Regions from separate parts of the Homo sapiens genome. Here all the other regions are linked to region 1. The links come from fine-mapping of genetic effects on gene expression. A gene starts in region 1. Each other region holds a variant in brackets. All regions are shown on one strand. Distances are from middle to middle.

Region 1 (7,779 bases):
CTGCCACCCCGACCTGCCCTCGGCATCCCTGGCCTTCCCGGGGCTTATCCCATGCAGCAGCCGCTGCACTTGTGGGCAGCCACGCCTGCTTCCTCTTCTGGTTCTTCCCTGAGAACACAGCTCATGTTTCCAGAAAGCTGGCCAAGGTCCAAGGGGCGGCCTGGGAATGTGAAGGACAAGGATGCCGATGACTGAGGCTTGATCAGCCTGTAGCACAGCCCCCAGAATCTGCCAACAGCCCCAGAGATGCCTGGAGCGCAGCCAGCGTGAGGCTGGAAAGCGGCTCCGCCCTCCTTGCCCGCCTGCGAACACTCACTGTGCGTACACATGTGCAGGTGCCGCTCTGTTTTTAAAGATCCTCCTTCGAACACCGTCCGTCCTGGAACACGTGCAATTTCCATGCTGTGGGTGGGAAAATCTATAGCCAGGCTCTACCGATTATGTTTATTACGTATCTTCTGTGCCTCTAACACATCCACGTTTCTGCCCCACCCGCCTTCGTCCTCATAGGAAACCAACTACTCTGCCACTGACATAATAAATGCCTGTTGTTTTAAGCCACTGAGTGTGGGGGCATTTCGTTATGCAGCAATAGATAACTGATTCAGGTGTTATTGTCAACTTAATTTTTTCAATTTTAATAAGAAGCCTTCCTGCTAGCAAGAGTCACCCAACAGCGGTTGGGGGCCTGAGGGAAGAGAAGGTTGGAGGCTGGAGAGATGGTGGCTCTCCTACATTTGGAAGCCTGAAGCCTGCTGCAAACCAGTGACGGGTTTCGCACATCCTGCTGGCATGGCCTCATCCTGTTCACCATTGCATCTGCTCCACTAGTGCAACACAAACCCAGTGAGCGCCAACTGAGCGTTGGAGGGACTCAGGGTAAGCTAGCCAATGAAACAAGCAGGGACCCCCACCCGTGCCGGGCAGTGTTGGAGGGACTCAGGGTAAGCTAGCCAATGAAACAAGCAGGGACCCCCACCCTTGGGAGCGTGCTTCCAAGGACCTCTTGTGTGGTGACTCTTTGGACGTGATTGTCACCCCAGGCACAGATGACTACCTTGCTTGGTAATAAGGACATGCCTCGCTCACACCACTCAGGAAATCACAGAAAGCCAGGCTGTCCCCAGCACACTGGCTGCCCCAGCTCAGCACGCCTGCTGCACCCTAGAATCACAGCCGTGCCCGTGGACCTCGGTCCTCGCTGCCCATGGGACCGGCCGGCTCCTCAACAGGCAGCATTGGGAGTGTTGGGATCGGGGCAGCAGGTCCCCAAGGCTCTCCAACTTGCAGGAGACACTCGCCCCCGGAGCCCTGCCCCCCACAAGGCGTGCCCGACTTCACGTGTCAGTGAAGGCATCCGGCTGGCCAAGGGTGTGGCTGCATCCCCAATGGGCATGACCGGACCTGGCCTGTCCCTTCCCAAGCACCTCACCGGCACTTTCTTTAAAGAGTCTCAGCTGTTTAGGAAGGGCTTCTGTCTGCAGAAATCAGAAGAGAAAGGGGCAAACAACGTGGAGTTAAGAGCTTCCAGCCGCTGAGCCATCCGGTTTGTGAGTGCACAGAAGAGCTCAGAACGGCCGAGCGGCGTGGCTGCCAGGGGTCCCCACCGGAGGCCTGCCATCTGCCTTGTGTAGAACAAGGCCTTCCAAGTGACATTTTCCTATGTGGTTTTAAGCAAATGCTCCAACACAATATTTGCACTATGTTGCCTTTTATGATTTTGTAAGCTCCCAGGCCAACTCACAGATAAATCTTTGAAAATAAGGGCAGCTTAGCCAAAAGGTCAGGGGTTTAAAAACCAAACAATGAGCTTAGGCAGAGGGAGAGCACAATCGCTGCATCCTCCTGCTTTGGCTGGCAGAGGGACAGACTCCAGTGGCCATTGCTGTGGACTTCCTCTTTGTGGGGGTCTCGACAGAGGCGCCTGATGGCCCAGCCCGTGGTCAGGCCCCAGTGTTACCAAGACAGTGGTGAGCGCCTGGACCTCACACTGTCCAGCACCTGTACTCCCTGGCATGGTGTGGATGCTAAGGTCCCCGCCCAAACCTCTGTACTTGGCCGGGCGCAGTGGCTCACGCCAGCAATCCCAGCACTTTGGGAGGCCAAGGCGGGTGGATCACGAAGTCAGGAGATGGAGACCATCCTGGCTAACATGGTGAAATCCTGTCTCTACTAAAAATACAAAAAAATTAGCGCCTGTAGTCCCAGCTATTCGGGAGGCTGAGGCAGGAAAATGGCGAGAACCTGGGAGGCGGAGCTTGCAGTGAGCCAAGATCGCGCCACTGCCCTCGAGCCTGGGTGACAGAGCGAGACTCCATCTCAACAAATAAAAAAAATAAAAAAATAAAAAAACCTGTGTACTTAACTGGTGAATCGTGTCTTCCAGAGGACAAATCTGGCCTACTCCAGCCTATTCTAGTTGGATGGAACACCTCACCTCACACCCGACAGCCCATTCGACCTCGTTCATTCCCCGTGGAGACCCATCAGTAACAGCCCTGCCCTTCATTCAGCCGCTATTCCCATTTTACAGACGACTCAATCGAGGCACAGAGACGCTAAGCACACTCGCCCAAATGTGAAGTAGCAGGGCCAACATTCAATCCTATCTACTGGCTTCCAGCAAAGGGATCACTGGCGTTTCCTTTGATGCCAAGATTTCTAAGCTCTGATGTTTGTGAGCTGCAGCCCCCTGACAAGAGTATCAGGCTCCGGTTGAACAGAGAAGTCCAAAGCAGGGCGAGAACGGACGAATAATCACAGAGTCCCGCTGCCAGCCACCGGCTCAGAAGCCTTGAATTCTCCTAGCTGGGCGGGCCCGGGAGGGGGTTCCTCAGCCTCCCGCTTCCCTCAACACCCTGCGACCCCCGCCCCAGCCTGCCCAGGTTTCCTGCTCCCAGCACAGCAGGTGCAGCCAGCCATGTGCACAAAGGCCAGGCTGGTTCCCTGGGCTGCACTCGAGCAGCTCCTCCCAGCCCTGCACACATGGGGCAGCAGCTCTACCCAACCTCTCCCAGGGGTTCTGGGGAGGAGGGAGCAGGGGAGGGGGCGGGGAGGGCCCAGAGAAGGGACAGTAGTGCCCTGGGGGCCCCTGGGCAACCCAGACATGGAGGGGGGGGCAAGCTTGTGCCTGGCCACCTATGCCAGTGCCACCAGGTGCTGGGGGGGACACGGAAAGGACAGGAATCTTGCCCTCACCTGGCTCCCGAGCCAGGGGCCGGGGCACCCTGTGAGGACACTCAGAGGGAGGGAGTGTGCAAAGCCTGCAGGGCCTGGGAGGATGCGTGCTGGGGCTGCCTCTCCCAAATCCTGCTGGGGCGCAGGCTCTCAGGGTGGCTTCTGATGACAAATCCAGGCAGTAATAAGGGGCCCAGGGCATCACATCCCATAGCGTCATGAGACCAGCCCAGGGTGCCAGATGCAGGGCCCTGAGTGGGGAGGGTGCTGCTCTGGGCACCTGCTTTCTGCCCTCCCTCATTCACCCCTCCCCAGACTTTGATGAAACCATCTGTGGCTCCCGGCCTCTGCAGGACCCAGCCCCTCAGCTCCTCAGCCCCTGCAGGTGTCCCTCGGTACTGCCTCACGCCATCCTGCCCCAGGTGATAACTATGCCCTGAGCCCCCACCATTTCCACTGGGCACATCCCAGAAATACGCATTCACAGACCAGGCACGCCCATGACTGCGGCCAGATTTTAAAAGGAATCACCAGAAATGTAATCTCCAGTGGTCCTAGAGCCCCCTGGGCACCCAGCTTCTGGCACCCTGTGGACACCCAGGAGTGGGGGTCGGCCCAACCAGCTGCGCAGCCGCCCAGCCCTGCCAGCGGGGAGCTTCCTCCCTCCCTGCCCTCCGGATACACCCTCACCCCAACTGAGCGAGCCCAGGGTTGGGGGAGGTGCATAGTTCCCTTCCTAGCCGGTGCGAGAAATTGCGGAGAACAGGGAAGAGGGTGGCAGGAAGGGTCTGGTGCACGATACCCGCCGCGCCCGCTCGGAATCCTGGTTCCCTGGAGCGCTCACCCCAGCCCGCCCTGCCCCGGGGAGCGCGAGGGGGCGACCCGCCAGGCTGCACCCGGGCGGGGCGGGGATGGCGGCGGGGGCTGCCTCCCTCCTCCGCCGCCACCCCCCACTGCTGGGCGCGCCGCGCGGCCGCCGGCTCCGTGGAGACGCGCAGAGCCGGGAGGGCGCGGGCGCGGCGGGAGGTGTGCGGGGCTGGGGTGCGCGGAGAGCGCGAGGGAGGAGATTCTGAGCGAGGGAGGGGAGCGCGCCCGGGCAGCAGTGCGTGCGCTCCTCCCGGCGCCACAAGCTCGCCCCGCGCAGCCCGAGCCGGGCTGGGCGCTGTCCTCGGGGGCCTGGGGAACCGCGCGGTTTGGAGATCGGAGGCACCTGGAACCCGTGGCAAGCGCCGAGCCGGGAGACAGCCCGAGGAACCACGGGTTCTGGAGCTAGGAGCCGGAAGCTGGGAGTCCGGAGGAGAGCGGAGCCCGGAGCCCGGAGCCCGGGGCGGCGCGTCTGGGTCTGGCGCTTCCCGACTGGACGGCGCGCCCGCTGGTCTTCGCCACGCGCCCTCCCCTGGGCTCCCGTTCATCGGTCCCCGCCTGAGACGCGCCCACTCCTGCCCGGACTTCCAGCCCCGGAGGCGCCGGACAGAGCCGCGGACTCCAGCGCCCACCATGCGCCTCAACAGCTCCGCGCCGGGAACCCCGGGCACGCCGGCCGCCGACCCCTTCCAGCGGGCGCAGGCCGGACTGGAGGAGGCGCTGCTGGCCCCGGGCTTCGGCAACGCTTCGGGCAACGCGTCGGAGCGCGTCCTGGCGGCACCCAGCAGCGAGCTGGACGTGAACACCGACATCTACTCCAAGGTGCTGGTGACCGCCGTGTACCTGGCGCTCTTCGTGGTGGGCACGGTGGGCAACACGGTGACGGCGTTCACGCTGGCGCGGAAGAAGTCGCTGCAGAGCCTGCAGAGCACGGTGCATTACCACCTGGGCAGCCTGGCGCTGTCCGACCTGCTCACCCTGCTGCTGGCCATGCCCGTGGAGCTGTACAACTTCATCTGGGTGCACCACCCCTGGGCCTTCGGCGACGCCGGCTGCCGCGGCTACTACTTCCTGCGCGACGCCTGCACCTACGCCACGGCCCTCAACGTGGCCAGCCTGAGTGTGGAGCGCTACCTGGCCATCTGCCACCCCTTCAAGGCCAAGACCCTCATGTCCCGAAGCCGCACCAAGAAGTTCATCAGCGCCATCTGGCTCGCCTCGGCCCTGCTGGCGGTGCCTATGCTGTTCACCATGGGCGAGCAGAACCGCAGCGCCGACGGCCAGCACGCCGGCGGCCTGGTGTGCACCCCCACCATCCACACTGCCACCGTCAAGGTCGTCATACAGGTGAGCCTCAGTAACCAGCCCCGGGGCTCCCCTCTCCTTCACCCCAAAAGCAGTGCCAGTGGTGTGCCTTCTGGGTAGGGAGTGGGAGAGATGTCACAGAGACAGTCTACTCCTGCGAGGCTGGGAAGGCGGTTGGGGCAGCTTGGGGGCAGCTCCAGAGTTGCCAGGCTCAGCCCCTATCTTCTTCCCTCCTGTTGAGGGGATGGAGCCCCTGCCTGTGACCTCTCTGGTGTTGGTGGCTGGGCCTCGGACATCTCTGAATTCCTTAAGCCTAATGGAAACATGTGCGCTGGCACCTGCGTCTCCAAAGGAAGAGTAACACTTTCATCAGCTTCTCAAAAGACTGTGCCACCAACAGGTGATGTTCCTTCCTCTGCAGAGAAGCCCCCAGACTGGCTCTGCCGGTGCCTCCCAGCTGCCTGCCCTGACCCAAACTTGGGAGTCAGAACAGAACCTGATGCCGTGTTGGGCCAGTTCCTAGTTTAGCCTCAGCTTTCCCATCTGTGTGATGGGGTAGTGATAGCATTGACCTCAGAAGGTAGAGCATTGGAGAGAGGACGCGTGGGAAGTGTTTGCATGGCCCCTGACACATAGAAGGGCTCACAGGCACTATTATTGCGGGATGGTGGGGACGATGTTTCTGCGGGGAAGGTTGTGAGGATCTGCGTGTGGCGGCGGTGTTGTGGTGAGGTGTGTAAAACTGGAGCCGAGTGACTAAGGGCCCTCCAAGGGTCTGAGCAAAGCGCCGTGGGAATGCGGGTGGGAAGCCCCCTTGGGAATCAGTTTGGCTGAGGTTCGTGGCACGGGGGGTTCCAGTGCTGGAGGGGAGGGCTGATCAAACCAAAGCCCCGAGCAGGAGGCTGGTGTCCAGGGAGGAAGTCAGGGCCGGTCGGGAACTTTGAAAGGCATCTTGGAAATGAGCAGCCTTAGAAGTGTGGGGTTTCCTCCATTTCTGGTGGGCTAAGGAAGCCAGAGGGTGAAGGATCCGGGCAGAGTCGCCTACCTCTGCCCAGCTAGAGGGGCCAGGGTGGCTGGCTGTCCCCCCAACTCCCCACACACCAGCATCGCCAGCCTCCCAGCTAAGCTTCTGTAGTTGCCTGGGCACCCCGCGTATGCCAGTATGCCCGGTGGGGGTGAGGGCAGCAGTGCCGGGCAGGGGGTCACCTGTCTGTCACTCCCTGGGCCCTAACTGACCCTCCACTGGCCACCACCCAGGTGGGCTGGGGGGTGGAGGAGGGTAGAACTGAGCTCCCAGTCTCCCTGGCTGCACATAGAACTGGTGGCTACAGGTGTCCCATCTCGGGGAGGCCCCTCCCACAGACACTGGTGGCAGGCAGTGAGTCAGGGCTGCTTTGCTTCTGCGGCGAGAGTCCCTCCCCTCACCAGAGGCAGAAGTAGGCACGGCCTGTGGGGTAAACACAGTGAGAAATGACCTCTCCCTCCCTTTGAGGCTTTATCTGCTCTCCCCAAGCTCCTGTCTTTGATTGGCATTGGCCAGGGGGAACCTCTCCCCAGTCCGCGTGGAGGGGCCCCAGGGGCGACAGCCACTCAGTCCTTCAGAAGGTGGGCAGTGGAGGGGTCAGCGCTGTCACTGCCCACCCAGGAGATGCCCCCACTCAGACCCCGGATCCCCCCACTCAGACCCCCGATCCCCCCGCTCAGATCCCCGATCCCCCCGCTCAGAACCCCGATCCCCCTGCTCCCCTGGCAAAAGGCCAGGAGCTCACCAGCCTCCTGCAGTCCTCAAAAACAAACAGCCGAAAAGCACAGGGGCGTGAGGACAGCTCGGCTCCGCCCCCCGGAAAGTGTCCTCCCCGCGTGCGTGGGCTCTCTGCCAGGTACTTGGGATTGGGCACCTGGGGGACATCACTTTGCCTCCCAAAGCACCACCTGCCCAGCCTTGTTGCTCAGAGGCTGCGAGGCAGATTTGGCCAAGTCACGCTACGGCCGGCCACAGGCACTCGTCCAATCGCAGAGGCCTGTGACGTATCAACCGTAGGACAGCGGCCCCACGCCCTGCAGACGCCATGCTGGCCGAGCGTTGCTGAAGGCACCCTTGGAGAACGTAGTTTCCATTTTTCTTTAAAGGGCTCAGCTGCGTGCCTGGGAGCAGCTGATTACAAGGGTGCTCCTCCATCCGATGCTGATGACCTGGGGCTTTCCAGGGCCCCGATGCCAGCTGCTCTGTGTGCTTGAAAAGAACATTCCTCGTAGGAGAGGCCTTGGCTTCCCCTGACCCCTGCCCCGCCATTTGCCATTTTATGAAAGGTTTCCCCGGAATTAGGGGGTTTACGGTCCCCACGTGGGCTTCTGGGCCATTGGCAGATCTGGGCAAACATCCACGGTTTTCAGATGGTGATGTCTGGCTGAAGAGGGGCTGGATACCCTGAG
Region 2 (7,779 bases), 63 kb after region 1:
CATCCCCACGGGAGGACACCCCCACAGGAGGACGAGAAGACACCCCCATGGCAGGACCCCCCTGAGGGCTGACAGCCCCACAGAAGTGCCTTCTGCGCCGGGTGTGTCCCTGCCTCATCCCCCTTCCCACCTCCCTGCCTCTGCCTCCATCTCACATAGCAGAGGGGTCCCCCAAACCCCCCTGCCCAGCCCCAAGCCACTAGGGCAGAGGCAGGGCCTTGTTGACAGCCAAACGCTGTCCTCTGGGGGACAAAGAAGAAAGCCCCTTTCCCAACCACAGGCCTCCAGTGCTCCTGCTGCCCCTGTTCCCTGTGTCTCCTGGGCAGGCAGATGGGCGGGCTCACGTCAGAACCACCAGGGAGCCTGTTCCAGACCAGTTTCCCAGGCCCCAGCTGAGCCCCAGGCGATCAGAAGGTAGGGTGGCCTGGGAATCTGCATGTTAACGACTTATCCAGGAGAGTCAGATGCGCCCTGGGGTGGGAGAGCCACCTCCCTATACCTTCCCATCCATCCATCCATCCATCCATCCATTCATTCATTCATCTGCTCAGTGCTCCTCGGGACCTGGCTGACTCGGCACCCCCCTGGCTGGCACAGAACGGAGGGTGTGGGGCTCTGCTGCCCCAGCCCCTGCAAGGAATTCTCACAACCCCCGTTCACTCCAGGGCATAGGAGATCACTGCACCCCAACCGGAGGAACACTGACATTGACGACAACATCATAGGAATGGAAATACAACCATGGAATTCCAGCTCAGTCATGGAGCGGGAGATCTGGGGACACTGGCCGGGCAGCCTGCCCCAGGCACCCCTGAACTCCAGTCCCCTGAAGCCAGAGCCCGGGTCAAGCCCCTCCCCACCCAGCAGGTCTGCCGAGCTCCGCCCTGTTCCAGCACAGAGACAGAAGCCCATCGGCTAGGAGGCCCACCCAGGAGGACAGTGCCGGCCCGTCGCCATCGCGAGGCAACAGGGGAGCTCTTGAGAGAGAATTCTATACACTCTAAATACCTCTGAAGGAAGAAAAACCAGCCACAGCCATTGAGACCTGAGCTTCCTGTATAGAAAATGTTCCCTCCTGCCTCCACCCTCTCTCCCAGCTCCCCAACTCCCTGCAATTATGACTGGAATTCCAGTTTTTATCAGAGCACCATGGAAACCATGGCCAGGCTGAATTTATGAAAGGAATGACGCCAAGCAGAGAGAGAACCGGTGAGGGGAAGGCAGGGAGCCAAGGCAGGGCAGGAGAGCAAGGCAGACGAGGAGGGGCTGGCACCCGCAGGGCGCCCGCAGCACGTGGTGAGTGGGCCCTCCCCAGCACACGTGCACGTATACACAGGCACCCCATGCACATGCACACAGCATGCACATGTGCCAGCGCATGCATACACACACAGACACACGTGTACACACAGGCACACTTGTGCACATACATGAACCCATGGGCACACACCCATGTACATGTGCCAGCACATGCATATACACACAGACACACATGTGTACACACAGGCACACTTGTGCACATACATGCACCCACATGCACACATTTACACTCAACTCACACACACACAGGCAAATGCATATACACATGCCTGCACGCACACACAGGCATGGCATGTGAACATGAGTGCACACACACAAGTGCTCACACCCGGGCACATTCAGCCTGCATAGGGCCTCCCATCTCACCAGGAAGGGCTCGTTCCTTGGGTCTGTGAGACCAGCCGCTTCTCATCCTGCCAGGCCAACTAACCAGGTGACTAGCAGAGCCACTGGGGACACCCCCAGCCAGGCCCAGACCCCAGCCAATTACCCAGGGCCTGGAGCAAGGCCCTGTCAGCTCAACCCCCATCATCTGACCTGGTTCAAGGCCCATGGCCACCGAGAGCCAGTCTGCAGCTGGGCAAAAGGGCAGGTGCCGGAGCCCTCAGGGTCAGCAGCTGTGTCTAGAGCTCGCTGGACAAAGGCTAGGCCAGGCACACTTCAGAAAGCACCTGCCTCCCACCCACTCTGGTCGGTCCCCCACCCCAGTCACTATGTGGCACTGAGGTCTCATCTCGGGCCCCAGTGCCAGGCTCTTGGCCAGCCCTGTCAGGATGGGGCAGAACCCTGGGGGTAGGGAGGGCCTGTGACTGGGCCACCACGCTGCAAGTACAGCAGTGAGAATGACCGCTAGGAAAGGACACTGGCGGCAATAGGGGGCTCTGCCCAGGGCTCTCTGCCTGGGCTGGGGCAGGCCGGCTATCAGGCAGTCGCACCCCCAGAGCGGCCTCGTTTGTTACCCCCACAGGCAGGAGTTGGATAAATACTCAGCCTCCTCCCCGCTCCAGGGGAGTCACTGGAGGGTGCTCAGCAGGGGCACTAAGCCATCAGCCCTTACAGGTGCATCCCCTTCCCTACTCCCTGTCTTCCTGGGTCACCTCCCAAAGAAATGAACAGCTTCCACATCAACCCTGGCCTCATTCTGCTTCCAGGGAGAGTCAGCCAAAAACATCAGGAGACAGCCATGGTGTAGGGAGCATGAGGACCGGGACCCAGGCACTGGCACGCCAGCCTGAGGACCGGGATCCAGACACCGGCACTCCAGCCTGAGGACTGGGACCCAAATGCCGGCACTCCAGCCTGAGGACCGGGACCCAGACCCAGACGCTGGCACTCCAGCCTGGACGCCCGCTCACCGGCATGCGCACGGGTGAATATGGAGGGAGGTGGGGGAACTAGGAAAGGAAGAGGAGGTCCCCTGGAGGGAAAGGCGTGGAAGCTGAGGCCTGGAGGGGGCAGATGGGAGGAATGTTCTGGGCAAAGGGGCAAGCTCCTGGACCTGTTGTTACCATGGCCAGGACTCCCCTCACCCAGCTGACAGCACAGCCCCACAGAGCCCCCAGGTGAGGGCCTCATCCCCATCCTCACACAGTCCCCAGGGAGGGTCCCCCCTCACAGAGTCCCCAGGTGAGGGCCTCATCCCCACAGAGTCCCCAGGGAGGGCCCCGCCTCACAGAGCCTCATGCCTGCAGACAGGGCCAGGTGAGGTGGACGTCTCTTGCACCTACACATCCTCGCGACAGGAGGATGCACGTCGTACAGATGGGGAAACAGGCTGGGAAAGGGAGTGTGACCTGCCCGTGATCCCAGAGGTGTGGCTACCAGAGCTGGAACTAAAACCGGAGCCCTTCACCAAATCCAGGTGTGACTCGAAGTCCTGAGTGCACAAAGATCACACGAGGACAGAGGCTCCTGGGCCTGCACAAACCACAGTTCCGGGCACCCCAGCTCCAGCCGGCCCGCACGCTCCACCAGGGCCTGTCCCCACACCTGCCCTGGGACAGAGGCTCTCACCCCATGCAGCCACGCAGAGAAAGACCACCCCCGATTCGCACCTGCAGAGGTGCCCAGGGGGGTCCCGCCTCCCCAGGGACAGCGAGTCACACCTGCCACCTCCCAGGGCAGTCACAATGCCAGCCCACAGGAGCCGCAGGAGCTTTGCCCTCCTAAAGATCATGTTGTTGGAAGACCAGAGCCTTCGGGGGCTTAGTTATGCTCTGAGGGTCCTAAAGCCACGTGAGGGTAGCTAAGGCCACCACAGTCCCCCACTCGGC[G/A]GGGGAGGGAGGGCAAGAATGACATTGAAGGTGGCAAACAAGGAAAAACAAGGAACGGGGTCTCTGCCCTCTCTCTCGGGGGCCCCTGACCTCTCTGGGGTCTCTGGCCTCTCACGGGGTCTCTGCTCTTTTGGGGGTCACTGGCCTCAGAGTTCTCTGCCCTCTGAGGAGTCTCTGCCCTCCTGGGGTCTCTGCCCTCTCCGGGTCTCTGCTCTCTTGGGATTGCTGCCCTCTGGGGGTCTCTGCTGTCTCGGGGTCTCTGCCCTCTCGGGGGTCTCTGTTCTGGGGGTGGTCTCTTCTGTCTCAGTGCCATGTCCCTGCCTTGCCTTTCTCCTCTCTGGTCGTCCTAGCTCCCAGGACCTAAGCTGGCCTTGGATGAACCCAGTACGGTGCCTCTCCTGCCTGTATCGGGGCATCCGGGCACTGCCAGCGTCCCATTACTGGACTCTGGTCAAGGAGCTTGGTGTGGATAACGGGAAGTTTTGGAAACTTCCCACCCTTCCCAGAGGGCTTAAAGGGACTGGGGCGAACGCCCAACCCAGCCACAGCCGTCCAGGGCTTTGTTTCTGACATGCCTTAAAAGGGGACAGAGTGGCCGCCGAGGGGACGGAGCCTGCCGTGTCCCGTGTGCAGCGGCGGACCACCAGGCAGAGCGCCAAGGGGAGTGTCCGGAGATCCAGCATGGGAAGAGCCCCCTGCCACTTCCAGCAAGGAGCACACAGGTGCATCCGTTCTTTCTGCCCCACACTTTCTAGGGACAGCAGGCCGAGCCCATGGTGTGCGCCGTCAGCATGGGCTCTGCAGCCTCCGACCCATGTGCGGCCTGCCCGGACCCTCGCTCCTCCGTGTGCGGCTCGCCTGGACCCTCGCTCCTTTGGGCCGTCACTCTCCCTACTTTGTAGACCTGGAATGCCATCCCTGCCCCAGCTCCACTGCCCATGGGTGGCCATCCAGCAGCCACGGTGGAGTACACGCTGCACTGTGGTGCCCAGGGGCCCTCTATCACGGCAGGACTCCCCAACGCGATGTCCCCGGGGTTCACTGCCCCAGCCCTCAGTGGCCTGCCTCTCTAGGCATTGCACTGGCAGAAGAAAATGTTCTCGTCCAAGCTCACAGCCACCAAGGTCACAGGCTACCAAGGTCATGGCCACCCACACCGGGCAGCTGACCTCCAGGATCATCCTCGGGAGATGCCCGCCTGGCCCCACCTGGCCGCCCTGCCCCATTTGCCCCATCACCCCACACCACTGCACTCCAGCCTGGGCGACAGAGCAAGACTCCGTCTCAAAAAAACAAAAGAAAAGAAAAGAGAAAAAGAACTCTATGTCCTCATTTCAAATGCAGGGAGAGTCTCTCGGTTTAAACCGTAAGTGCCCTTCCCAACTCGGCAGACCCGCCCCAGTGAAGAGCATTTTCATGACTTGGGAACAGGACACTCACCTTGCCACTAGGCAGGACTGTACTCACTGGCTCGGGGGGCGCCCAGGCAGGAGACAAAGCATTTTCCCATGGCATATGGATGGCTTCCGTGTGCTGCATGACTGGGCAGTGTGAGAAAAACGCAACCCCCAGTGACTGCTGTAGAGGACAATTCAGCCAAAAATCAAACTGCCACCGTCATCTGCTGAGACCTTGATTTCCCAGGGCCTGGTGGTGCTGAAATACTCAGAACATCCTGAATGAATGAATGTCCACTTCCTTCACCAGCTCTGTGCTGGGGAGGGGGCAGGGCCTGCGTCTGATCAGGAGCTCCTCCCCCGGGGACCAGCCTGGAACCCCTTATAGCGATCAGGAGACACAGGAGACACCCTGAATGACGACACTGAGCTCTTTCCAATCTCTTGCTTGTCCCAGCGAGTACAGTGAGCACATCTTTCCCTGTGCTCTGGGCAAACCCCTGCGGCAGCAGCTCCTACCGTGAAATTGGTGTTTCTGGGTCACAGGGTTTGTGCCTTTGTGATTTTGTTGCTATTGCCAAATACCCTCTGCAGAATTGTGCCAAGGCACCTCCCCACCAGCCTGAGCATTTGCAGTGAAACGCTTTAGCAATCCTGACATTTCTGCCAGCATATTCCACAGCATGCTCTCTTTGCCACATTAATCAACAGGAGCTCAGAGGAAAACTTGAACTTCAGGCTGAGCCATTTCCTGCAATCTGAAAAATGAACGTGGCCTTCGGACACAGGGTGGTCCCTTGCCAGGGACTGGATGGAACTGGTTCAATTCCCCGCTCCTGGGCTTCCTGGTGTGCAACGTGAGCCATGCTCACCCCAGGGTGGCTGGGAAAAAACGCCGGTCCGCTCTGAGCATTCGTTTCAGTGATGGCTGTTCTTGTTCACGTGAGATGTGCCAACTCTACAATACTAAACCGTTGGGAGAAGCTTCAAGGGGACAGCACCTGGGGAGGGGCAGTGGCGGGCTCCAGGTTGCCCAAGGCTGTCATGGAGAGGAGGAGACCCCAGTCCAGCCCAGCCTTGTGCCTGCAGTGGAGGTTCCAGTTGTGAAGGGGCTCCAAGTGCCTTGTTCATCCTTTGCTTGATAATGAACCACCTCTGCCAGGTGCCAGCTGTACTGTGCACCTGCAGCTCCACACCCTCTAGGCACCAGCCCCTCCACTCTTTGGCCTCTTCGACAGGGAACCCCGAGGGGACAGTGGAGCAGGCCTGGGGCTGTTCCAGGCAGCAGGGGGGCGCCTGGGTCAGCGTCCCCACCCGCTGCCCTCCCCGGCCTTCCAACTTGCTGTGTGCACATTAACAACATGGACGGTCTTTTTCTTTTATTATAAAAGTGATTCATTCTCTTGTGAAGATTTAAATATGAAAGAGTGGATCTCCGCTAATCCCACCCGGTGATGATAGCAGCCGACAGATGGGCGAGCATAGAGCTCAGACATTGCCAGCAGCGTCAGATCCTTATATATCCAGAGCACGGCTCACACGCCACCGCCCTGCTGGCTCTGTCAGCCGCATGGTCCTCCGCGACACCTGGGGCTCTCCCTCCTTCCTTTGTGTGCACAACCTCAAAGCCATTTTTTCCAGACTTGGCGTGAAGATGATTTTCTGACACGTTGATGCTTCTGAAGCACAAGGAGGGCCCTGTCTCCACGGTGTCCAAGCAGAGGCTGACATCCTTTCAGGAGGGAGGTGATTCGGGCGCAGCTGGGCTGGCGGGAGGCATGGAGGCTGAGTCCCCTTCCTCACTGCTCTCTACCTGGAGAAGAAACCACCAGACCATGAGGCCGAGCTGGGGAAAGTTCCGGGGGGCTGCTTGGGCTCTGTGCTCCCTCCACTGGGGCAGGCGGAGGGCCCTGCGTGCTCCTTCCAGGCAGGGGCTGAGGGGACTGTGGAAGCCACGACAGGGGTCTGTGTGAACAGAAGACCCAAGGACAAGGTGCCCCAGCACTCCCAGCCACTAGCAAGGACAGGCAATTTTCAAAACTTCTCCCCAAACTACAACCTCAGGAAAAGGGGTGGAGAAAACTCCTTTGACAGAGATTTGGTTTTCACCACCATGACAGGACAATGATGATGGATGGAAGCTGTGGCTGGGCGTGGGAAGGCTGAGTGTGCAAATGTGGGTGGAGTTCTGGGGCCCCGCCCCCGCCAGTCTTCCACTTGGTCCCTGTGAGGACCCACATGAGGGAAGTGTTGCTTCTGGCCTCAGAACCCAAGGCAGAGCAGGCTGGAGTCCCACCCCATGGATCACGAGCCCACGCTGTGACCCTGAGTCCTGGACATGCGCAGAGGGAGGGTGTGCACGAGCCCGGGAGCTCCTGTCTCTGTCTTAAGAGTGGAGCATGTCTTAAGAGCTGGCATGAGGATCAGAGGGTCCCTTCAGTGCGGCCTTCTAGAAGAACTACAGCAACCAGGCCCTCGCAGGGGGGAGATGCACCTGCTGGGGCTAAGGAGCGAGTGAAGCCAGCCCCTGAGACACATGCTCCCAACCCCATCCTCACCTCCCAAGAGAGGGGGAGCCTCCTGTTAAGCATCCAAGTCCCAAGTCACCGGCCGGCATCGGCTGCAGCTCTCTGTGTGTGGAGACATCTCATTCTGGTGTCTTCTTTACACAGGTCAGCGCTCACAGGCTCGGCTGTGTCTCAAGACCCAATTCCTTCGAGTCACTGAGATGCCCAAGGACAAGGGCAACAGAGAGTGTGAAAAGCTGGAGTAGACAGGACAGAAAACAG
Region 3 (7,779 bases), 36 kb after region 1:
TCGAACGGGCTCATTCGCAGCCATAGGGTGAGCGGCAGGCAGATCTTACAAGCCGTGCAGGCCGGAAGGAAAAGGGTTGTGGGGCTCATTCTTAGTCATAGGGTGAGCGGCAGGCAGATCTTATAAGCCGCACAGGCCGGAAGGAAAAGGGTTGTGGGGCTCATTCTTAGTCATAGGGTGAGCGGCAGGCAGATCTTACAAGCCGTGCAGGCCGGAGGGAAAAGGGTTGTGGGGCTCATTCTTAGTCATAGGGTGAGCGGGAGACAGATCTTACAAGCCGTGCAGGCGGGAGGGAAAAGGGTTGTGCCGACAGTCTGAGGGTGGAGACCAGAGCTGTGGACTCGAGCCCAGGGGAGCCCCCACCTGGCCACGGTTTCCTCATCTGAGAAACAGGAGTGCGAGGCCCTACCAGGGATCCTTCCCGCTCAGATCCCCAGAGAGGTGGGGGCCGTGACCGGGGCCAGAATTCCACCCCTCACTCACTGCTCTGCGCAGCCTCCTGGGCTTGTCAAGAGTTTTTAAAGCCCTGTCGTGCTTCCCAGCAGATGCCTTGTGGGTGTGAGCATTCTCATGGGCTTGAAGCTGGCAGATATTTGAAAACATGGCAGAGACCTGCAGCCCGCAGCCTCAACCGCTGGCTGTCACCTGCCGCTGCCTGTGATTTACTCTTGAGAAGTGCTGGAGCAGCTGAAAAGCAACTCGCCACCCCAGCACTGCCCTCAGAGTGACTAATGGGGCACACTGGGGTTCTGGGCCCCGGCCAGGCTCAGCGAGGGGAGGGCCGTTCCCGGGGCTGAGGGCCAGGGGCCTCCCCTCCTCCTGTCCTGGAGGGCACCTGCCCAGCACAGGTAGAGGAGGCAAGGGTGTCAGGAAGGCTCTTTCCCTAATCTGACTAAGGCCCTCTGGGCTAAGTCAGGGGTCTCCCGGCAGCCAGGCTGCTAAGTCAGGGGTCTCCCGGCAGCCAGGCTGCTGCCAGTCCCGCAGCTCAGCCGGGCACAGACAGGATGTGGCTTCCAGGGGCTTCTGTTCTGCCAAGTCCCCACTCAGACAATGGCCTCTATAGCTCCAGCAATCAGGAGGGAAAAGATTCCAACTCCCACACTCAGGGCTCCCTGCTGCCTGGAAGAGGAGAGGAGGGCAAACCTCTTGCAGAGGTGACGGGTGACTCACCAGCCCCGCTCAGAGGACGGGTCTGCAGGTGGCCAGAGTTCTCCTGATGGGGTCCTTGCCCCCAGCTGGCTTGGGGGTCCCTACACCGGCCCCCTGCCCCACACCATGTTCCTCCCACCCCATGTCTGTGCGCCCCTTCGAGCATGCCTGGGCATTGTCCATGGTACTGAACCCCTGAGGCTCCCTGGGGCTCTGGCATTCTCTTGAGCCTTTCCCAGAAATTCCAAACCAGAAGAAAAGTGCAGGGAACAGAGTGGAGGAGCCATGGACAGAGGCTGTGGGGCAGGCTCAGTCCCTGAGAGGTCGCCAAGGAGCCACAGCCTTGGACTAGATGCTCTCAAAACCTGGCAATGGCCCACAGAAGGCATCTGCTCAGGTGAGGTACATGCCACAAAGCTTCACCAGTGGGGATGAGGATCTGCTCATAGGATGGCCCCTGATGGAGGAAGTGGGAGCTCAGGCTGTGGGATCAGGCCCCTGGGTTCACAACTGTGCCTGGGTTTCTTTATCTACAAAAGGAGCCTGACAGGAGCCTCTGCCTCACAGATGAGACCTGTGTGCCTGAGGTGGTGCACACAGAGTATGTGTAGACCCCAGGACAGTCGATGTCAGCTAGAAAGTGAAGGTTAGAGGAATTCAAACCGTTATTTTTAATACTGAGCCAAAACCTGCACATCAGAGCTCTCTGATGGAGGCGTGGACGGGGTCGTGAGGGGCCAAGTACTAGCCAGAAGCTGCGCCGTCCATTTCATCCCCTCCCCACAGTGGTCCCACAGACACCGAGGTGGCTGACATGGCCCCTCCAGGTCACACGCCTGTTCTCTCTCCAGTCCTGCCCTCAGGGACTCAGAAATGCTGGCGTTCCAGGAGGTGGTGTGTGGGCTCCTCCTCAGGCCAGGTCTGTGGTCACTGCTGACCACGCGGCAATGTACGGCTTTCCAGGCCCCCATCCACCATGAGTCAGGCGTGTCCCCACTGGGCAGCAAGTCCCACAGCTTTGCATTCCAGATCCCAGCAGCATCTCGAGCCGGGCCTGGTACTGCTTAGATGCCTGGGAGGGAGGACCGAGGAAAGAGACTGGGGACTGAGGGACAGCACAGTATCCCAAGCTGGCCACTACCAGAACCTTCTAGAACAAGGTCACACTGGCAGTTCTTTATGCCTTCCGTCCTCTGCTCCCCAGACACCTGTTTACACAGGGCCCTAGGTCTCAGGTGTCCTGTGGGTGGCCGCTGCTTTTCCCTGGGTCCCTCCATGGTGTCTCCTCTGAGGACAGCCACTGGTCAGAGCCTCCTGGATGACCTCACTCCTGGAAAGCGCTGGGCTGTGTCACCTTAAAGACCCCTTTGCTCTCTTGGCCCTGGCACCCCACCTCTGGCATGGGGAGCAGAGACCCACCAGGGTTCCCATCCCTCTCCCCGCAGTGTTTCCCCAGTTCCAGGGCTGTGAGGTGGTCACAGTGGCTCTGGTGTGGCCGTGGGGTTCCTGTTCATCCCAGGGCACCTGTCACGGGACATACCCACAGCACAGGCAAGTGGAACGTTCTCTGAGTTTAGCTTTGTTTGTGTAGGTAGTTCACTGTGGGAGTCTAGCTTTTGGGGGACACACCTGAGACCCTCCCAGCTACCCTGCCCTCTCCCCAGATCAGCTCGGTAGGCTCCAATCCAGAGAGTCAGGCTGGGAGGGGAGCACGGAGCCGCCCCTGCTGGACACGTATCCCGGCCATCTCAGGCCCACCCATTGCCTCATTGCTCCCTGCCCCCGGTCCAGTCAGCTGAGTGCCCCGTGGTGTGGGTGCGTCATGCCATGGCGACCAGCCCCAAAGGGTGAGCCTTTGAGTTGTTCACCAATCATTGGGGTTTCGAACAAGCCTGTGCTGACGGCCCTGGCACACAGGGTTTCTGAATTAACTCTGCCATCGTTCCTGGCCTCAGCTGTGGTGGGGAAGGCAGTTCGGGGTCATGAGAACCCTGAGGGTTGCTCCCAAGTCAGTGTTTGCTGGGTCTAGTGGGGGCCTCTCCACCTGGAGTCTGTCTGGGAGGTTAGAAAAGACCGTCCGTGAGCCTGGGCCCTGCTGGGGCTGGTCATCTGCTCAGGGAGAGGGCGATCCCCTGCCAGCCCAGCAAGGCCACCCCAGCGGTCACCCCCTTGGGAGGGTGTGGACAGGAGCCTCCCCTCCCACCCGCCCCGCAGCCTCTGCAGCCATCTTACAAAGCCTCTGGGTTCTGCAAAGCAAAAGGGTTTTGCACCTTCCCACTCAGCACAGGCTGGCTGCGGAGCCGGGAAGCAGTGTGCCAGTCTGGGGCTGTCTCTTGATCTAAACACAATGGGATGAATTAGAGAGAAAGGCAGAATACAAAACAAGCAATTGCTCTCGAAGAGC[G/A]AGGTGAGAACGCCCTGCCTGAGGTCGAGGGGCTGAGGCCGGCTGTCTGGAGCCTGTGTCGGGGGCACCCTCCTGCTGTCTGGCTGTGCCCTCACCTGTGGGCAGGCATACCGTGTGCACCCCTCCCGCTCCCCACCTGGTCTCCACGGCCAAGCTCAGACCAACCACCCAGAGGCTGCGCCCCGGTCCAGATCCCCCTAACACACCTGCTGTTTCATTATCTAACCTTTCACTCCACCTCCGTCCTCCCCATCAAAATTACACATGCGAGGGGGCAGAGGCCAGGCTGTCCCTCCCATAGGTCCAGCCCCACCAGCCGTCGCCCCAGCGTGTCCCATCCCAGCCTCCCAAGCCGCAGTCCTGTGCCCCCCAATTTGCTTCCTTTCCCACACCCAAGGGAGCACAGTCAGTGCTCCAGGAACTGAGGCAGCACCTCTAGGCTCGCTCTTTTAGAAATGAGGCTGAGGGGCTGGACGCAGTGGCTCGTGTTTGTAATCCCAGCACTTTGGGAGGCCGAGGTGGGCGGGTCATGAGGTCAGGAGATCGAGACCATCCTGGCTAACATGGTGAAACCCTGTCTCTACTAAAAATACAAAAAAATTAGCCAGGCATGGCGGCGTGCACCTGTAGTCCCAGCTACTGGGGAGACTGAGGCAGGAGAATGGCGTGAACCCGGGAGGTGGAGCTTGCAATGAGCTGAGATCACACCACTGCACTCCAGCCTGGGTGACAGAACAAGACTCCGTCTCAAAAAAAAAAAAAAATACAAAATTAGCCAGGCATGGTGGCACATGCCTGTAATCCCAGCTACTCAGGAAGGCTGAGGCAGGAGAATCACTTGAACCTGGGAGACGGAGGTTGTGATAAGCAGAAATCGCGCCACTGCACTCCAGCCTGGGCAACAAGAGCAAAGCTCAGTCTCACAAAAAAAAAAGAGAGAAATGAGCCTGAGGCCCAGGAGGACCTGCCGAGCTCACAGCTGGCCAGGGAACAAGCCAGGCCCCCACTTCTGGCACCAAACCCCAGGCATTCGGCTGCTTCTGAGAGGCTTGAGGCCCTACCAACCACTCAAACGCCATTCCCAGACCCAGACAGGGCTAGGAGGCAAGGGGTAGCAGCTGAGGGGTGCACACAGCAGAGGATACTGCCAGAAGCACGAATGAGATTCCCATGGAGGCAGCCCCACCTCCAGACCACCACGGCTGTCACAGCAGACACCCCTGTCTCCCACCATGACCTTCTGCTCTGGAACATCCACCCCTAAAACCTCAGACCCAGCCACTGAGGCCCATGGCCCAGAGCCCAGCTACCCAGCCGGCTCCAGGGAGGGTGGCCCAGCCAGTTCCTGCCACCTGAGGATGTTGGTACACACACCAGACTCAGAGGGAGACCCAGACAGACAGCAACACAAAGACAGAGAGAGAGACACAGAGAGGAAAGCAGAGACACAGAGAGACATGGAGAGAGACACAGAGACAGAGAAACAGACACATAGAGGAAAACAGACACAGGGAGACACAGAGACAGAGATACAGAGACACAAGAAAACAGAGACAGAGATAGAGACAGAGACACAGAGATATAGAGATAGAGACACAGACTCAGGAAAACAGACAGAGAGAGACACAGGAGAACAGAGACACAGAGATACAGAGATAGAGACACAGGAACAACAGAGACACACAGACAGAGACAGACACAGGAAAACAGTGAAAGACAGAGACACAGAGGAAAACACACAGATATACAGAGAGAGACACAACAGAGACAGACACAGGAAGGAAAACATACAAGGAGACAGAGACACAGAAAAACACAGAGAAAAACACAGAGACATCACAGGAGAAAGATACAAAGACAGACAGAGACACATATTCTGCCTCGCCTCCAAATCCAGCTTGGCGTGGACCTCGCTGGGACTGGATGGCCTTCTCTACAGCTGCTGAACAGCCTCGCCGTCCCCAGGGCTTCCCTGCTGTTGGCCATGACCCTCCCCTGCTGCTTGGAATTGCAAAGCCAGGCGGTCTGGGAGTCCCAGCCACCACGCGTCCCCCAGAATATTCATGGGGCTGGGCCAGGTGACTCCCTGCTCTCTTTAGAGACAAATCGAAAGGCGCCAGGGTGCTGTGGCATCAGTGGCGCTGAGGCATCCTCTGGCCGGCCCTGCATGGCCTTCAAGCTGCTTGAGTCCATTGGACAAAGTCCCTCAAGGCCACCCTATGTGGCCAGGGCTGAGACGCCTAGAGAGGTAGACGCTCAGCCTGGGCAGGGACGGGGGCCACACTAGCAGAGGTCAGAGAAGGGGTCAGCCAGGGGGAAGGTCAAGGCTGCCGCCCGGCGGGTCACCACCAGGCCCCCACACTACCCCAGCCTGGCCGTCTGCTTCCTGTTCAGTTCTCACCCCCTGAGTTCTCAGGTCTGTGAGTTTGCTGGACCGTCTGCCAGGAGAGCTTAGGGTCCCTGTAGGCTTGTGGGTGCCATCAGGTCAGAGATGAGAAGTCACCTCCAAGCAGAGGCCTTCCCGGAACCCCCAGCACTACTGCAGCCAGGCTGCCGCCAGCATCGCTGTGTCTGTAGCTCTTATTGGCCCTGAAGTCACTGCAGGTGGTTCTTTCAGTGGTCTCTCCTCCCCAGGATCCAAGACCTCTGACGGCAGGGGCTCCTATGGCTTCTCCAAGGCAGTGATGTTTGTGGGAGGGAGGAAGGGAGAAAGGTGGAGGGAAGCTAGACTAACCAAGAAAAAAGAGAGAAGACATAGCTAAAATCAGATATGAAAGAGGAGACTTTACAAGATGCCACAGAAATCAAAAGGATCATAATAAACTGTGAACAATTTTATACAAACCAGCTGGACAGCCTGGAAAAAATGGATACATTCCTAGAAACTCACAAGCTTCCTAGAGTCAATCGCGAGAAATGGAAAATCTGAAAGGACCAATAACAAAGAAGGAGATTGAATCAGTTACCAAAAACCTCCCAAAAAAGAAAACCCCAGGGCAGGGCCAGGTTGCTTCGCCGATGGATGCTACAAACATTTAAAGAAGAATTAACACCAGTCCTTATACAATTCCGAAAATGTGAAGAGGAAGGAACACTTTCTAACTCATCTTACAAGGTCAGCATTACCCTGATACCAAAGCCAGAGAAGGACGCTATGAGAAAAGAACCAAGAGGCAAAAATCTTCAACAAAATACTGGCAAACTTCATTCAACAGCATGTTGAAAGGCTCATCCACCATGAGCAGGTGGGATTTATCCCTGGGATGGAAACACAGTTCAGCACATATGAATCAGTAAATGTGATCCACCACATGAACAGAAGGAAGGACAAGAGCCATTTGATCATCTCATTTGATACAGAAAAAGCATTTGACAAAACTCAGCATCCTTTCATGATAAAAACACTCAACAAACTGGGTGTTGAATGCATGCTACACAATAAAGGCCACGTATGACAGACCCACAGCTAACACCACACTCAGTGTAAAGGCCACGTATGACAGACCCACAGCTAACACCACACTCAGTGTAAAGGCCACGTATGACAGACCCACAGCTAACACCACACTCAGTGTAAAGGCCACGTATGACAGACCCACAGCTAACACCACACTCAGTGTAAAGGCCACGTATGATGACAGACCCACAGCTAACACCACACTCAGTGTAAAGGCCACGTATGACAGTCCCACAGCTAACACCACACTCAGTGTAAAGGCCACGTATGACAGACCCACAGCTAACACCACACTCAGTGATAAGAAGTAGAAAGCTTTTTCTCTAAGGTCAGGCAAAGCAAGGATGCACTACTCAACATGGTCCTGGAAGGCCTAGCCAGAGCCATTAAGCAAGATAAAGCAGTAAAAGGCATTCACATCAGAAAGGAAGAAGTAAAATTGTCTCTGCAGATGACATGAACTTATGTATAGAAAACCCTAAAGACTCCACAAAAACAAAAACAAAAACAAAAAAAAACTGTTAGCACTAATAAACACATTCAATAAAGTTGCAGGACACAAAATTGGCATATGAAAATAAGTTGTGTTTCTATACACTAGCAATGAATTATCCCAAAAAGAAATCAAGAGGGCCAGGCGCAGTGGCTGACACCTGTAATCCCAGCAGTTTGGGAGCCCGAGGCGGGTGGATCACCTGAGGTCAGGGGTTTGAAACCAGCCTGGCCAACATGGCAAAGCCCAGTATCTACTAAAAATACAAAATTAGCT
Region 4 (7,779 bases), 26 kb after region 1:
TTATCTGGATGTCCCCCAGCTTGTTTATTCACTCAGCTATTGATGGACATCTTGGTTTTTGGCATTTATGAAGAAGGCTGCTATAAACATACATGTGCAGGTTTCTGTGTGGCTTTCACCCCTTTGGGAGTAGAAATGCCAAGGAGGGCGATCGTTGGAACACGTGGTAAGGATACGTTGAGCTTTGTAGGAAGTTGCCAAAGTGCCTTCCAGCACGGCTGCGCCATTTTGAATTCCCAGCAGCCACGGGTGAGGGCGGTTCTGTTGCTCCGCAGCCTTGCCAGCGTTTGGTGTCGTCAGGATCTTGGTTTTGGTTTTTGTAGCCATTCTCATTTGATCTCATTGTTTTAATCGACATTTCTCTAATGACATATGATGTGGAGCATTTTTCTTGTGCTTATTTTTCCATTGCTACGTCTTCTTTGATGAGGTGTCTATTCAGATGTTTTGCCCATTTCTTCATGTTTGTTTCCTTATTGTTGAGTTGTAAAAGTTCTTTATATATTTTGGATAACACTCCTTTATCAAGTATTTTGCAAATATTTTTTCCTAGGCTGTATCTTGTCTTCTCATTCGTTTAACAGTGTCATTTTTAGAGCGTTTTTGTTTTGTTTTGTTTTTGTTTTTTCTTTTTTGTTTTTGAGACGGAGTTTCGCTCTTGTTGCCCAGGCTGGAGTGTAATGGCACAATCTCGGCTCACCACAACCTCCGCCTCCCGGGTTCAAGTGATTCTCCTGCCTCAGCCTCCCGAGTAGCTGGGATTACAGGCGTGCACCACCATGCCCAGCTAATTTTGTATTTTTAGTAGAGATGGGGTTTCTCCATGTTGGTCAGGCTGGTCTTGAACTCCTGACCTCAGGTGATCCACCCGCCTTGGCCTCCAAAAGTGCTGGGATTACAAGTGTGAGCCACCACGCCCAGCCGTGTAATTTCTTAATTTTAATGAAGTCCAGCTTATTCATTTTTTTTGTGGATTATGCTTTTGATGTTGCATCTAAAAACTCATTGCCAAACCCAAGATACCTAGATTTTATACCCAAGATACCTAGATTTTATTACCTAGAAATTTTATTATCTTGTATTTTATATTAAATAAAATGTGTTATTATCTATAAATTGTATTATCTTGCATTTTATATTAAGGTCTGTGAGGCCTTTTGAGTTAATTATCCTGAAAGGTATAAGACCCATTTTTTTCTACATGTGGATGTCAGTTGTTCCAGCACCATCTGTTGAAAGACAGTCTTTTCAACATCAATAACTTTTGCTTCTTTCTCAAAGATCATTTGCCCATGCATGTGTCCGTCCACTTCTGGGCTCTCTTTTCTGTTCCATTGGAATATTTGTCTGTTCTTTAGCCACGATTACACTTTACTGGCTGGGTGTGGTGGCTCACGCCTGTAATCCCAGCACTTTGGGAGGCCGAGGCGGGTGGATCACTTGAGGTCAGGAGTTCGAGGCCAGTCTGGCCAATATAGTGAAACCCCCATCTCTACTAAAAATACAAAAATTAGCCAGGTATGGTGGCAGGTGCCTGAAATCCCAAGTACTCAAGAGGCTGAGGCAGGAGAATCACTTGAACCCAGGAGGCAGAGGCTGCAGTGAGCCAAGATTGTGTCACCATACTCCAGCCTGGGCGACAGAGTGAGACTCCATTTCAAAAAAAAAAAAAAAATTACACTGTACCGATAACTGGGGCTTTATAGCAAGTGTTGAAATCGGTAGTGTCCATCCTGTGAACTCACAGTATGACGTTAAATAGGAGTGAGGATAGGGGGCCTCCCTGCCTCCTTCCCTATCTTAGGAAGAAAAGCTTCAGGTTTGTCACCATTGAGTATGACATGGGCTGTAGGTTTTTAGTAGATGTTCTCTACCAAGCTGAGGGAGTTCCCTTGTATTCCTGGCTTGTGAAAGGTTTTTCTCACAGATGGGTGTTGGGTTTTGGAAAATAGTTCCTGTTGCCATGATGGATTTCGATAATCTGTTTCCGAACCCTGGAGCAGCCTCGCATGCCTGGAATAAATCCTGTGCTGTCTAATTCTTACCATGTAGCGCTGCATGAGATTCGCTGCTATTTGTGTAATTCTTAGTATGTGGTGCTGGTTGGGAAATCCTGTGGTGTATAATTCTTAGTATGTGATGCTGGATTTGCTGCTGTTTTGTTGAGGGTTTTTGCATCTGTGTTCATGAGACATCCTGGTCTGCGTTTTCCTTTCTTGTAACATCCTCGGTTTTGTTATTGGGGTAATGCCGGCCTCGTAGAGTGAGTTATAAAGTGTTCCTCTGCTTCTATTTCCTGGAAGAGACTGTAGAGAGTATCTATCATCTGTTCCTTAAATGCAAGGTAGAATTCTAAGTCCGTGTCCCTGCGTGGCTCCAGGCACGCTGGTTCCCCATCTGACCCTCCGCTTGCTTTTCCTCGGGCTCTCCCTGCCTGGGCCTGGAGGACCACAGCGGGCACAGGGGGCGGCTCAGGCTGAGAACCAACGGCGCTGACGTCGCCTAAAGGGGGTTCCCAGCTGGCAGCCTCCAGGTGCTGGAATGTTTCTCGGTGAGAAGCCGCCACGGGAGTCTGTGGACTTGTCACATCACCCGCAGGCGTGGCCCTGAGGCCACGTATCCAAGCAGCAGTGCCGTGCATATTCATGTCGGCATTGGACTTGCAAATTCTGAGTGAAGTAAATGTCATCGGCAGTGTGTAGACGTTCTTTCGGAAGAAGATCTGTCAGAGAAAATGCAAGCTGATTACCAGCCTAACAGAGAAATGTGCATCCCGGTCCCCGCAGGGCCACCCTGGAGGCACCTCTGCACCTCCCAGGCACAGCTCTGGGAAGGCTGAAAATTAGCACCAATTAGGGAAGAATGAAGCTCTTGGTTCCCTCCTGAAGCACTTGGTTGAAGCTTGCTGCGCTCCTTTCCGGGAGCAAATGAGCATCTCTCGGGACAGTTGTGTTTCCCTTGGGCAGGGAGCCACTGGCAGCTCCCCAGTGGGAATCGTGCCTTCTAGTCCAGATTTCCACTTTGGAAAGGGAAGGTTCTAGAAAGTTCTGGAAAGCTCGGCTGTGGCTGACTCCTGGCTTAGGGCTCAGGCCTGTCTCACCTAGCAATGCAGGGTGAGCCATGTGGGCTGGCTTCTGGGGATGGGGAGGAGAGATACACACATGGAGAAAAAGAGGGAGATAGAGAAGAGAGAGGGAGAGAGAAAAGGAAAGAGAGGAGAGAGGGAAAGGCAGAGAGAGAAACAGAGGGAGAAACACAAAGAGAGGGAGAGAAGGAGAGAGAGACACAGAGAGAAAGGGAGGAACAGAGGAGAGAGAGGGGAGGAGGGGGAGGGAGACAGCACCCTCTTCTCCCTACCCTTGCCTGGGGTCTCAGCTGAGAGAGGGAAGGCTCTGTGCTGGGGAAGAGGCCTCCAGCAGGGAGTAGTGACTGATGAATGTATGATTGCTACTTTATCTCAATAGAGGATTCGAACAGCCCCCAGGCAGGGTCGCATTTTAAATGATGGTTTTGGGTGCTGAGCCAGCCCAGCTTGGAGGGGGTTTCGTTTCACAGATGAGGAGCCTGAGGCTGGGGGAAGCCACTTGCTCAGATGCACACGGCTGGGGCCGGCGGCAGGTTTGCCCGACCTCGAGTCTGCGCTTCTCATCCTGGAAGCGACCGCCTTGTCCCCTGCGCAGCCTCCTTCTCTGGCTCAGCCACGTGGGTTACTACTGAGTTCACTCTTCAGCCCTGGTGGGGGACGGGCAAGAGATGGGGCGTGAGGGGCGGGCGGAGGCAGCGAGGTCTGGGATGAGAGCTTTTCTGGAGCCTTCTCTGGAGTGTGACCCCCTTCCCCGCAAAAAAAAAAAAAAATCTTGGCTCAGCTCTTGGGCTTCGGTGCAGTAGGGGCTTTGTGGCCGATGCAGAGGAAGCCGAGCTCTGCTCCTGGAAGGACGTGGCCCCTTGTCTTACCCAGGCTTCATTTTGGGGCCATCTTTTTAGGTGGTTGAAAATGAGTAACTCATTCTTGACCTTGTGCAATGCCCACGCCCTGTGTCCGGGGCTGACCTGGAGGCTCTGGGTTCTCTGCTGAGCAGAGCTGGGGCCAAGACCACCCCTGGGGAGCGAGGAGCAGGCGCTGGTGTGCCTGGCCCAGGTGGCTTCCCATAAAAGCTGCAGGCAGCCCTGTCTAATGTGGCAGCCCTGGGCCACACGTGGCCACTGGGCATTGAGACATGGCTGGTCTGAGTGAAGATGAGCTTCAGCCTGAAATCCGCACCGGGTTTTAGAGTTAATGCGGAAAGGCGGTATACAATAGCTCACTAATACCGTTGCAAGTTGATATGATATTTTGAATACATTAAGTTAAATAAGATAT[C/A]GTATTAAAATTATCATAGCTGTTTCCTTCCACTTTTGTAACATAGCTACTGGTACATTTAAGCCTCACGTGGCCTGCATCCTATTTCCACGGGACTGTGCTGCCCGAGCCCCTCCCTGCTGATGAGAAGCAGCCCTCGGGTGGCTTTGGGGTGTGTCCAGAGCCTGTACAGCCTCCCCTTGGGGTGGGGTGCCGCGTGCGGGGTGCCAGGCACCAGCCGGTGCTGAGGCCCCATGTGGAGGCAGCCCTGCATGATGGGCAGCAACCAGTGGGGTGCCATCGTGTGCGGTGACGTGCACACTAAAGAAAGACGCTCAGCTCCCTCCTCTGCCCCGCCTGGCCGCCAGCTCAGTGCCAAAACCATGGTTAGGGGGTGGGAGGCCACGGGTGCCCTTGGGGACCTACCAGGCCTGCAGGGTCCTTGGCAGAGGGGCAGTGCCTGGCACCAGGAGGACACTGTGCTGGAAGGTCAGCCTGTTCCCACAGCCAGGGATGTGGGGCTCCCAGGTAGCCCCATTCATAGTTATTTGAATTGCTGTGATGGAGGCAGGCGGAAGAGGTGGGACTGCGAGGGAAGGCAGGGGCCCCCCGGGGAGAGAGTGGGTGCCTCCTTCCCTTTCCTCAAAGCCCAACGGCCTTGCAGTGAGACTGCCACTATACAACAAAGAGCCAGCACCGCTGTGCACGCTGGAGTCTCACAGATGAGCCGATTATGTCTTTGTGACAAACACATTATTAGGAGTGAGATGAATTCCTTCTGTGGGCGGGGATGATTCAGAGAGAGGCGTCCCAGCCCCAGGAACAGCCTCCCCGCAAGGTGGCCTCAGCCTCCCCCATGCTCCCCTGGAGGCCGCTCCCTGGCTTGGGGGGTGGGTAACACGGGAGTCCCCCCGACACGGCGAGGTGAGCTCACCTCCTGAGGCTGGCGTGCAGGGAAGTAGGAAAGGGCACACACTGCGACCGGGGACCAGGGACAGGGTCTTCCCCGCTGTGACCTGTGGGGCTGTGCAGGGGGCGGGAGCAGCCCCCATCCCAAAAGGAAATGGGACAGGAGTTGCCAAGAACAGTTCCCCTTACCCTCCAATTCCTCACGGGTTCAGCACTTTCTCTGAGGGGGTCTGGTCTGAATCCCAAATTCAGATTCTGTATTCAACTGTTCCCTTCATTACAAAGAACAAATTTCCGAGCCCAGTAATTCCCGTTTAAATTTGTCAATTTTCATCCCTCGATAGAAATCAGTATGTGGTGATCACAAAAGCCGGGGTATTAGCCCAGTGGACAGTTTGTTCTGAAACTTGTCCCTTCGGGGCAGGGCCTGGGTTAGGAGGCCTGAGATCTGCCTGGAGCCTGGGGTGCCTCGGGCAGGGGCATCGTGGCTGGGGATTCTCTGCACTTGCCCCATGGAGCAGGGCGGGAAGGGAAGCCAGGCTCCTTTCCCTGTCTGGGTCTGGGGCTGCTGCCCTTGGCAGCTGGGGAGACCCTGGGACCCCAGAGGCAGAGCCCCACTCTCTGTACCCTCAGGCGCAATGCCCTGAAAGACAGGCGCCACTTTGTCTTCAGAAAGGCAGGAACCAAACCCCTCTCACAGTTCCAGAAGCTTCCCTGAGTCCCAGTTTAGACGCAGAATCTCCTCTGTGGATCACTCCAACTGGGGAACCAGGAGAGGGGGTTTGGGAGAGGAGGGAAGTGGCTTCCACCTGTGGGTGGGGCAAAGAGAGGGCTCCCAGCTATGCAGGGCGGGCCCAAACCTCCAGCAGAGCCCCTTTCCCAGCGAGGACTCCGAGGACTCCGAGGCCCTGGCCTGTGGCTCCCAGGGAACAACCTGGACCCTCAGCATAGGACCCGCAAGCTGAGACCCTCCTCTGTTTTACTGCTTCATTTTCCATCTGTGACCAGGGCCCAGGCCACATGCACACACCTGGCGTAGGAGTTACTTCGTGATGTGTTTGGCTGTGTCCCCACCCAAAATCTCATGGGAATTGTAATCCCCATAATGCCCCGTGTCAAGGGCAGGACCAGGGGGAGGTGACTGGATCGTGGGGGCGGTTCCCCCAGGCAGTTCTTGTGAGAGTGAATCTCATGAGATCTGATGGTTTTAGAAGCGTCTGGCGTTTGCCCTGCTGTCACTCACACCGTCCTGCTGCCCAGTGAAGAAAGTGCCTGCTTCTCCCTCCACCATGATTGTAGGTCTCCTGAGGCTCCCCCAGCCCTGCAGAACTGTGAGTCAATTCAACCTCTTTCCTTTATAAACTACACAGTCTCGGCAGTTCTTTAGAGCAGTGCGAAAATGGACTCACACACTTGGCCTGGGCCCAGTCTTTCCCGGATGGATGGTGCGATGATCAGCCCCGTGTTCGTGAGGACGGGGCCAACCCAGACCCACCTGGAGTTGTAAAGTTTCATCAGCACTCAGCCCCACCTGCTCATGTACGTACTGCTATGGCTGTGTTGGCCACAGCGGCCACAGTGAGTGGTTCTGCTCAAAAGTTGAGATCCTCCGGCCCACGAAGCCACAGTGACTCACTCTCTGGACCTTCACAGAAAGCATTCACCCACCCCACCCTAGGATGCGTGTCCAGAGGTGAAATGGCTCCCTCCGTGCAGTCGGAGAGCCCCTTGACTCACGGCTGCACCCCTGCTCATCAGGCACAGCGGCAGGCACGTGACCTCTGTGGGGCCACTTGTCCTACTTGCAGGGAGGGGCCGAGCATGGGATGCAGCATCCACGCCTGCACTTAAACGAGCCCTCTGTGGCCTTGCCCCACTCGGCCTGAGGAGAGCCTGGAGAGAGATGCCGTCCCTGCCTGGGCGCTGCGATCCTCCTTCCTTCCCACCTGCTCTCGTCCCCACATCTGCCCATCGCCAGGTCCAGCCCCGGATGCAGGCCACACCTGGGTCCCTCCCTGGCCCCACCCCTGAGAGCAAACCCAGAATGCAGTTGTGGCTGCAGCGGCCTCCTGCTTTACCTCCTGCTGCTGCTTCCCACTTCTGAGCTGCTCCAAGTCCAGGATTGATGACCTGACCCCTGCCCCCGGTCCTCCCCACCCCCCACACCCCTGCACCACCTCACACACTCTTACCTCCTTCCTCCTGGCCCACAGATGCCCTTCAGCCCTGCAGCCTCTGCGTAAAGCTCCCTCCTCTGGAAAATGGCCCCTTATCTCCCCCAGACCACGCTGCATGCCCCCTGGTCCTCCGCAACAGCCGCATCCCTTTCCCTGCAGTGCCCATCTGCCCACGTCTGCCCCCCTCCCCCTCCTCTGCCTATGCCAGGTGCCTTGGATGCATCAGGTGCACCGTCAGGGCTTTTGAAGGCTCCACGAGGCGGGCCTGGGCACGCAGTGCACGCAGAGGGTGATGGAGGGTGCTAGATGGCCGGCCTGGATGAACCCAGGTGCACGCAGAGGGTGACGGAGGGT

What was found.
Region 2: its variant is fine-mapped to the expression of NTSR1 in whole blood (TOPMed, PIP 0.96).
Region 3: its variant is fine-mapped to the expression of NTSR1 in whole blood (TOPMed, PIP above 0.99).
Region 4: its variant is fine-mapped to the expression of NTSR1 in whole blood (TOPMed, PIP above 0.99).

The regions. Positions count from the first base shown.
Region 1 is chr20:62,704,534-62,712,312 of GRCh38, forward strand. NTSR1 (neurotensin receptor 1) reads left to right here and starts at 4,303. Exons shown (of 4, transcript NM_002531.3): 1 at 4,303-5,388. The coding sequence starts at 4,675. RefSeq lists enhancers at 3,267-3,780, 3,781-4,293, 4,503-5,049, 5,050-5,594.
Region 2 is chr20:62,767,767-62,775,545 of GRCh38, forward strand. It overlaps LINC00659 (long intergenic non-protein coding RNA 659), which reads right to left. Exons shown (of 3, transcript NR_046225.1): 2 at 7,549-7,620; 3 at 6,355-6,803. Among named protein-coding and RNA genes, the nearest start is that of LINC00659, 5.2 kb to the right of the region's middle. RefSeq lists an enhancer at 1,167-1,898. The variant G/A (reference allele first, on the strand shown) is at 3,594.
Region 3 is chr20:62,740,253-62,748,031 of GRCh38, forward strand. The region is part of intron 1 of NTSR1 (neurotensin receptor 1); the gene reads left to right. Among named protein-coding and RNA genes, the nearest start is that of NTSR1-AS1, 8.8 kb to the left of the region's middle. RefSeq lists enhancers at 1-707, 1-316. The variant G/A (reference allele first, on the strand shown) is at 3,554.
Region 4 is chr20:62,730,461-62,738,239 of GRCh38, forward strand. The region is part of intron 1 of NTSR1 (neurotensin receptor 1); the gene reads left to right. It overlaps NTSR1-AS1 (NTSR1 antisense RNA 1), which reads right to left and starts at 4,899. Exons shown (of 2, transcript NR_199009.1): 1 at 4,766-4,899; 2 at 1-2,722. RefSeq lists an enhancer at 4,323-5,168. The variant C/A (reference allele first, on the strand shown) is at 4,361.